Homo sapiens: one gene and its partner. The protein of the gene in region 2 interacts with the protein of the main gene of each other region in a pairwise test. Each region holds a gene or a part of one and is shown on either strand. Other genes may lie near its edges.

Evidence for each region.
Region 1: the proteins of FAM169A (region 2) and MTMR9 interact in binary tests that used the Homo sapiens proteins (3 or more experiments, as listed by UniProt).

Annotation. Positions count from the first base shown.
Region 1 is NC_000008.11:11,282,890-11,286,489, forward strand, and holds the start of MTMR9 (myotubularin-related protein 9), read left to right. Parts: upstream 1-1,926; 5' UTR 1,927-1,999; coding exon 2,000-2,181; intron 2,182-3,600. UniProt on the Homo sapiens protein: Acts as an adapter for myotubularin-related phosphatases. Increases lipid phosphatase MTMR6 catalytic activity, specifically towards phosphatidylinositol 3,5-bisphosphate and MTMR6 binding affinity for phosphorylated phosphatidylinositols.
Region 2 is NC_000005.10:74,838,589-74,842,541, reverse strand, and holds part of FAM169A (soluble lamin-associated protein of 75 kDa), read left to right. Parts: intron 1-862; coding exon of another isoform or gene 863-865; coding exon 866-997; intron 998-2,368; coding exon 2,369-2,468; intron 2,469-3,491; coding exon 3,492-3,577; intron 3,578-3,953.

The sequences.
Region 1 (3,600 bases), on a different chromosome or scaffold from region 2:
CATTTCCATACTTTTGAAGTCTTATAAGTCATCCAGATTCATTAATTCAAAGGGAGTTCCTCCCTGGTAGTTGGAATGATAGGTCATTTTTTTCAAGGACCCAAGATCGGGCTGGGATAGGGATGGCAGTGTATCTGGATGAAGATAGGAGATAAACAAAGCCAACAGTCCTTTGCCAGAGCTGAGCTGGTGGTATTTAACAGTCTTTGCATTAAATTTAAAGTTCTTAATAAATACCCAGAATCTATTAATTGCCAGAGGGGTAAAGTGAAGCTCTGTTGTAAAATAAAGCTGATTCCCTGTATGCGGTGTCCCTGTGTATACTGGGTGTATACTGGGTGTCCATTATGGAACAAAAAAAAAATACTTATTTGCTATTTTGTTCTATAGAATGGGAACTTCAGGGGGTGGATACCTGTGCTGTCAGGAATGCTAGTTATAAAAATGAATTAAAACACTTCATATATTACAAAGGAAGTGATTCCATCTATTTGGACGAAAGCAATTAAACTGCAAAAATATAAAAAATGGCAACTATTATTCAGTCTACAGTAACTATGCAACAAAGACACCAAGGAAAGTTGGTAGGCATTTACGTATCTCACTTAAAACAAGTCTATAAAGTGGTTTATTTTAAGAAGGGTACATTTTAAGAAGGACAAAATCAAAAGCATGGACAAGTGTTGGATGAGCTGATGAGGTTGTGGCAATTTACTTTGTGAATACTGTGAGAGTTTGTCCAACTCGCTGTGCTTAGGTACTAGATGGTGAGGATTTAAAAGGTCAATGAAGTCACAGCAGACCAGCACTCAAACATATTTCTCTTCTATTTCCTACTTTTGAATAAAAATGTCAGAAGTGGGCGGTGGGAAAGGAACAAGCAAAGGAGTAATTATTTGAATAAATTTTTGGCGAAACGTGGGTGTCTGACGGGGAGGCTGTGCGGTGGTGACCAACGCACCCATGCGCTGGGTTTCACAGATGCAGACTGAAGTCCAGGCTCTGCTGCAGATTAACGGGGTGGCCGCCAGCAAGTCAAGTGACTTGCTCTTCTGTGCACTGCATGTACTTGGGTTCCTCTCACAGGTATTCCTGTTTTTCCTCTTTCTTGCTCCAGGTTACACCTCGTGGCGCGGCGCTCTCGGAGAGCCTGTGGAGTGGCCCTGTGTCCCTCCCTGACCCCTGGAGGATTCCGTAAGGTCACAGTCACCGCCTCCATCCCCTACTTGCCATGTCTTCAGGGCTAATGCATAACAATTATCACAATTTACAGCAGCCCCACGCTCTGAAGAGCTTCTGGAGGGGATACTACTCAAGCGGAGGAAGGCAAGACAGGGACCTCCTCCCTCTTCCCGGACCTCTTCTGATAAGGAATATTTGTAGGTGGTTAAGAAAGGCAGCGGGAGGGCGTGAAGGCAAAGACAAGCTTTTTTTCTCGTAGGAACACACATCTTCTGGTCTGGCTGTGTTTCCGGAGGCATTTCCAGAGGACCTAGCGAGGACCAACTTCCGGCTGCGACTTCCGCGTCTTCCGAGTTTCGAGACCTGCTGCTTCCGCCCGGAGTTGTTGTGGGCTCCAGCAGCGAGTAGCCACTTCCGCTAGGAGTCCCTAGCGGCCAGGGCGTGGAAGCGGATTCTGAGGCGGCTTTCTCCTACTGCCCTCCGCTTGCCAACGCGGGACCCGGAGCCCAACGGCAGCGGCGGTCCTTGGGCCTGTGGAGAGGGGTTCTCTGTGGCCGAGTCCTAGGCCTGGTGAACCGCGCGGTGCGGGAGAGGCGCTTGGGCCTCGTCCAGCCCCAGCCCCTGTCTCCCCGCGGCCGGTGCCGGCGGCTGTAGGCCTCGCCGCGCCCACCCAGCCTGGGGCGGGCCCAGCCTCACCGCCCGGCCCGCCCCGCCCCACGGGCCAGCCCCGCGCCGGGTGTTTCCGCTACTTCCCTGCGGCGGGGTAACCGCCTCGCACCTACCGGGCTCGGTTCCCTGGCTCCGGCCGCGGGGGAGCATGGAGTTTGCGGAGCTGATTAAGACCCCGCGGGTGGACAATGTGGTGCTGCACCGGCCTTTCTACCCGGCTGTCGAGGGCACCCTGTGCCTGACGGGCCACCACTTGATCCTGTCCTCCCGGCAGGACAATACGGAGGAGCTGTGGCTCCTCCATTCAAACATCGACGCCATCGACAAGCGGTGAGTGCCCGCCCCACCCCAGCTCCGCAGGGAGCCGGGGGTCCCTTGTGGGCGCCCCGGGAAATACTTCCTGGCGTTTTCCGCGCAGCCTGCCGCCCAGCTAGCCGGCAAGATGAGCCCTCTGTGGCCTAGAATCAGGATTTACCAAGCTGAAACCCGTCCAGATGGAGGACCCGGTTTCCATTAAACCTGGATGGAGTTCTCAGGGTTATCGTGTGGCTGGTACCATCCTGATGATCATTTCTGGTTCGTAACACCATTTGGGTGGATTTTCGGCATTGTCTTTATAAATTTCTTCTTCTTCTTGCCCCATCGTATTCCTTGAATTGGTATTGTCAGTCACCGTTCATGAAGTGATTGGATGTGATTTAGGTAAAGTCTTTACCATTTCTGAGGAAAACTAAACAGATTATAAAGTTATGAGTGTCTACATGCTACAGAACCATTTTTTTAATTTCTGAAAAATGTTCAGTGTATCATATTATTTCTTACCTTCTGGGTCATCAAAATTTAATTCTCACTAAGGGAGATTCTGATGTCTTCTCTTCATCTTTACTCAATTCTGCTTGCTGAAAGAACAGGGTTGGCTCTCAAGGAAAGGCATGGACCAGTTAACCTCTTTTTTCTTTTTGTACTCCAGACTTTATCTTTCCAAGGCAGTGCCTCGAAGTCAAAAAGTTAAACTTTCATCTGCATTCAAAATTCCCATCTCCTTAGTGGCTACTCGCTAGCCAGGAGAGGGCAAACTGATTATCCGTTTTACACAGAAGTATAAATGAATGACGACAACATTTTCTATTGCCTCACAGGATAATTTGGATATTAGGAAGATTCGTACAGAGGATATGCCTTAAAATAATAATCTCTTTCTTTCTTTCTTTTTTTTTTTTTTTTTTTTTTGGAGACGAAATCTCACTGTATTGCCCAGGCTGGAGTGCGGTGGCCAATCTCGGCTCACTGTAACCTCCACCTCCCAGGTTCTAGCGATTCTTCTGTCTCAGCCTCCCGAGTAGCTGGGATTACAGGCACGCGCCACCACACCCGGCTAATTTTTGTATTTTTTAGTAGAGATGGGGTTTCACCATATTGACCAGGCTGGTCTTGAACTCCTGACCTCGCAATCCTCCCGCCTAGGCCTCCCACAGTTCTGGGATTACAGGCGTGAGCCACTGCGCCTGGCCTAAAATAAAAATTTCTAATGGTAGAATTGCAGGCAGTTTGGGTGAAGCCATGGTAGATTGATTGATTGATATGAGCAGGGGGCTCTTATTAGTCTCCTCAAGCCACCTTTTGCTGTATAAAGTCTTCAGTGGGCCCGGCACGGTGGCTCACGCCTGTAATCCCAGCACTTTGGGAGGCCAAGGTGAGCGGATCACCTGAGGTTAGGAGTTTGAGACCAGCCTGACCAACATGATGAAA
Region 2 (3,953 bases):
AAAAAAGAAAAAAGCTATATATATGAGAATTATAATTTATAATATACCATAATATTCATCTATTGCAAACCGTACAATTCAGTGATTTTTTTTTTTTTTTTTTTTTTTTTTTTTTTTTTTTGTGATAGAGTCTCACTCTTTCACCCAGACTGGAGTGCAGTGGTGCAGTCTTGGCTCACTGCAACCTCTGCCTCCCGGGTTCAAGCAATTCTCCTGCCTCAGCCTCCCCAGTAGCTGGGATTACAGGCATCTGCCACCATGCCTGGCTAATTTTTGTATTTTTAGTAGAGATGGGGTTTCACCATCTTGGCCAGGCTGGTCTTGAACTCCTGACCTCATGATCCACCCTTCCTTGGCCCCCCAAAGTGCTGGAATTACAGGCGTGAGCCACTGTGCCCGCAGTGATTTTTTTTAGATTTTTTTTTTTTTGAAATTTATAGGGTTGTGCAGCTATCATCACAATCCAATTGTAGAACATTTTCATTATTCCAACAAGTTCTCGTGTCCTTTTACAGTGACTTTTATGTTGAGTGGTTTATGAGAGTATATTTATATGTGTATTTTTGTGTGTATGTACATATAAATATGTCTTATGCCTATGTGACCATATTTATTATGTAAGGACGTATCTGTTAATTTATTTCATTGCCTGTTTTTAATACAAATGAATAATGTTTGAAAGTTTTCTTTTTGACATGCATGGTTAAATCAGCAGGTTCAAGTTGTATTCTGCGGGCAAAGTGAAACAGAAAAATCTTGTTATAACAAAATATGGCAACATTGTAGTAAAATTTATTTTCTGTGAGTAAAGGAAGATGGCGTTTCATATTCTGAATTGTTTGTTCCATGTTGTTTGTTAAAGAGGATGGCATTCCCTGTGGATATGCTGGAAAATTGCAGCCATGAGGAATTGGAAAATTCTGCTGAAGATTACATGTCAGATTTAAGGTGTGGGGACCCTGAAAATCCAGAGTGTTTTTCTCTTCTCAATATTACGGTAAGGTGTTCTGCAGTGATTGTCATCAATCTTTTCAGTTCAGTTTATACATGAAATAAATATCCTTTTTTAAAAAAATCATTTTAAGTGTTAATCATTAATTTTTGAAATCTTTACAGAAATCTATTCAGTAAAATGGATAAATATTGGTTGATCAGTTTTTAAAAAGAGAAACTCCACAGGTTATTGCTATTTGACTTTATGGCTTTAAAATTATATGTGAGAATACCACCAGTTTTGCTAAGACTGTTTACTATATTTGAGCTGCTTCAGATTTACTTTAGATTTGGAATTTGTGAGTTTAGAAAATTTTTTAATTAAAAAATCAGCAAAACACTAAATTACATATTTTTTGTGCCATGAATCTTTTCTTCCTTTTTCTAAAAAAGTAAAATCAAATTTTCTAGTCAGTAAATTATAATATTTTGTGATAGATCATTAGACTTGGAACCATTAGGGTTTCACTGTGAACTGTGGTGGACAAATTCCTTAACCTCTCTAGGCCTTAGATTTTTCTTCTGGAGGTGACTTAAAGAATTTTTTAAAGTCTTCCCCAGCACCAATATTTTTATAATTCTCTGAATTGTAATGTTATCTCTAAATAGGGAATAAGTGTTGGATTAAATGAAGGCAAAAAAATGTTAAAGCATATTAGTAGCATGTATCTTCCCAGAAAAATTAATTTACTTGACTGCTTTTTTTTTTGTTTTTTTTTTGAGATGGAGTCTCGGTCTGTCGCCCAGGTTGGAGTGCATTGGCACGATCTTGGCTCACTGCAACCTCTGCCTCCTGGGTTCACGCCATTCTCCTGCCTTAGCCTCCCGAGTAGCTAGGACTACAGGCGCCCACCACCATGCCCGGCTAATTTTTGATATTTTTAGTAAAGATGGGGTTTCACTGTGTTAGCCAGGATGGTCTCGATCTCCTGACCTTGTGATCCGCCCGCCTTGGCCTCCCCAGAGTGCTGGGATTACAGGTGTGAGCCACTGTGCCCGGCCTGCTTTTTTTTTTTTTTTTTAACTAGATAATGGAATATCTTCCTCAAGTAGGCTAAATAACAGATGATAAATTATAGTTGTTTTTTAAATGACTTTATGGGCCATATTATAGCTTTGGTTTTTATTCAGATGTGTGGCTAGATACATAATAATATTTATGAAACAACTTTTCATATTTTCCCTAAGACAATAAAATTATTCCAAAAGGGAAGTCTATCTGATTTACTCTTTTTTTAGAGACTAGAAATAATGTCTCCTATAAAATAAATTAAAATTAACGTAGGAAATATTTACTACTTTGATAAAAGATTGATTTTTTTAATGTATTTTCTTAACAGACTGTTCACTAATCTTTATTAATTTGTCATTTCAGATTCCTATTAGCCTGTCAAATGTAGGCTTTGTACCTCTTTATGGTGGAGATCAGACCCAGAAAATTCTTGCTCTCTTTGCACCTGAAGATTCACTGACAGGTCTCTTTTTGCTTAATTTTTATAAATTAAGGAATTTTTCTCCAAACTGTTAGAAATTTATTTAAAAGGTAGCTACATGAAGGAATTTGGTTTTTTTTTTAAAGTGTTTCAAATTGTAATTTTATTAAAATGTAATTCTTAATTGCTTATAGCTACATGTTTGATGGATGAATGTCTGCTATCACACTGCTATAAAGAACTTCTTGAGACTGGGTAATTTATAATAGAAAGAGATTTAATTGACTCTCATAGCCAGGCACGGTGGCTCATGCCTGTAATCCTAGCACTTTGGGAGGTCGAGGTGGGTGGATCACCTGAGGTCAGAAGTTTGAGACCAGCCTGACCAACATGGTGAAACCCTGTCTCTACTAAAAATACAAAATTAGCTGGGCGTGGTGGCACATGCCTGTAATCCCAGCTACTTTGGAGGTTGAGGCAGGAGAATCGCTTGAACCCAGGAGGTGGAGGTTGTAGTCAGCTGAGATCACACCATTGCACTCTAGCCTGGACAATAAGAGTGAAACTCCATCTCAAAAAAAAAAAAAAAAAAATTAAAAATTGACTCACAGTTCCGCATGGCTGGGGAGGCCACCAGGAAACTTGCAATCATGGCAGAAGGGGAAGCAGGCACGTCTTACATGGTTGCAGGCAAGAGAGAGTGTGTGCGCACGTGTGTGAAGGAGGAACAGTCAAACATTATGAAACCATCAGATCTTGTGATAATGGGACCCCCCCACCCTGACCCATGATCGAATCACCTCTCACCAGGTCCCTCCCTCTACATGTAGGAATTGTGGGGATTACAGTTCAAGATGAGATTTGGGTGGGGATGTAGCCAAACCATATCAGTGAAATAAAAATGGTATAAATGAGGCTACAAAGTACAATATTACTATTTGGTAAGGTTTATATAGATACTCTTAAATATAAAGTATATGGATACTTTATAGTACAATATGGCCTTATTAAGTCTAAAAGTGTACTTTAAAACTCAAGTGTTAATGATTATTTATTCTATTTTAGCTGTGGCACTTTACCTTGCTGATCAGTGGTGGGCTATTGATGATATTGTGAAAACATCTGTTCCTTCAAGAGAGGGGCTTAAGCAGGTAACAAGATCCTCTAATTTTGAGTGTTTCTTTTGAGGCCATTTCACAGTGTTTCCTGTAAACAGTGATAGTTTTTGAGCTCTTCCCCATTTAAAAATAATCAGGTTATATTAAACCCTAGAATTTCATTCTTACGATGAAGCCAGCATTCGGGTTGGGCTTCCTCCATTTTTATGTGATTCTATAAGTATCTGAGATTGGGTGAGGAAGAATGAATACCTATGGGTTAGTTGAGCTTTGGCTACCTTTATCCAAGTTAGCTTCTGATTTTCTTATTTGATAGAGGAAAAGCTAGTTCCCTTTGTGTGATTGTTTAGCTTCTGTCTCTAGGAGAGACTGACCAGGAAACTTGTTTATTAGTAGGGCCTCTTCAGGT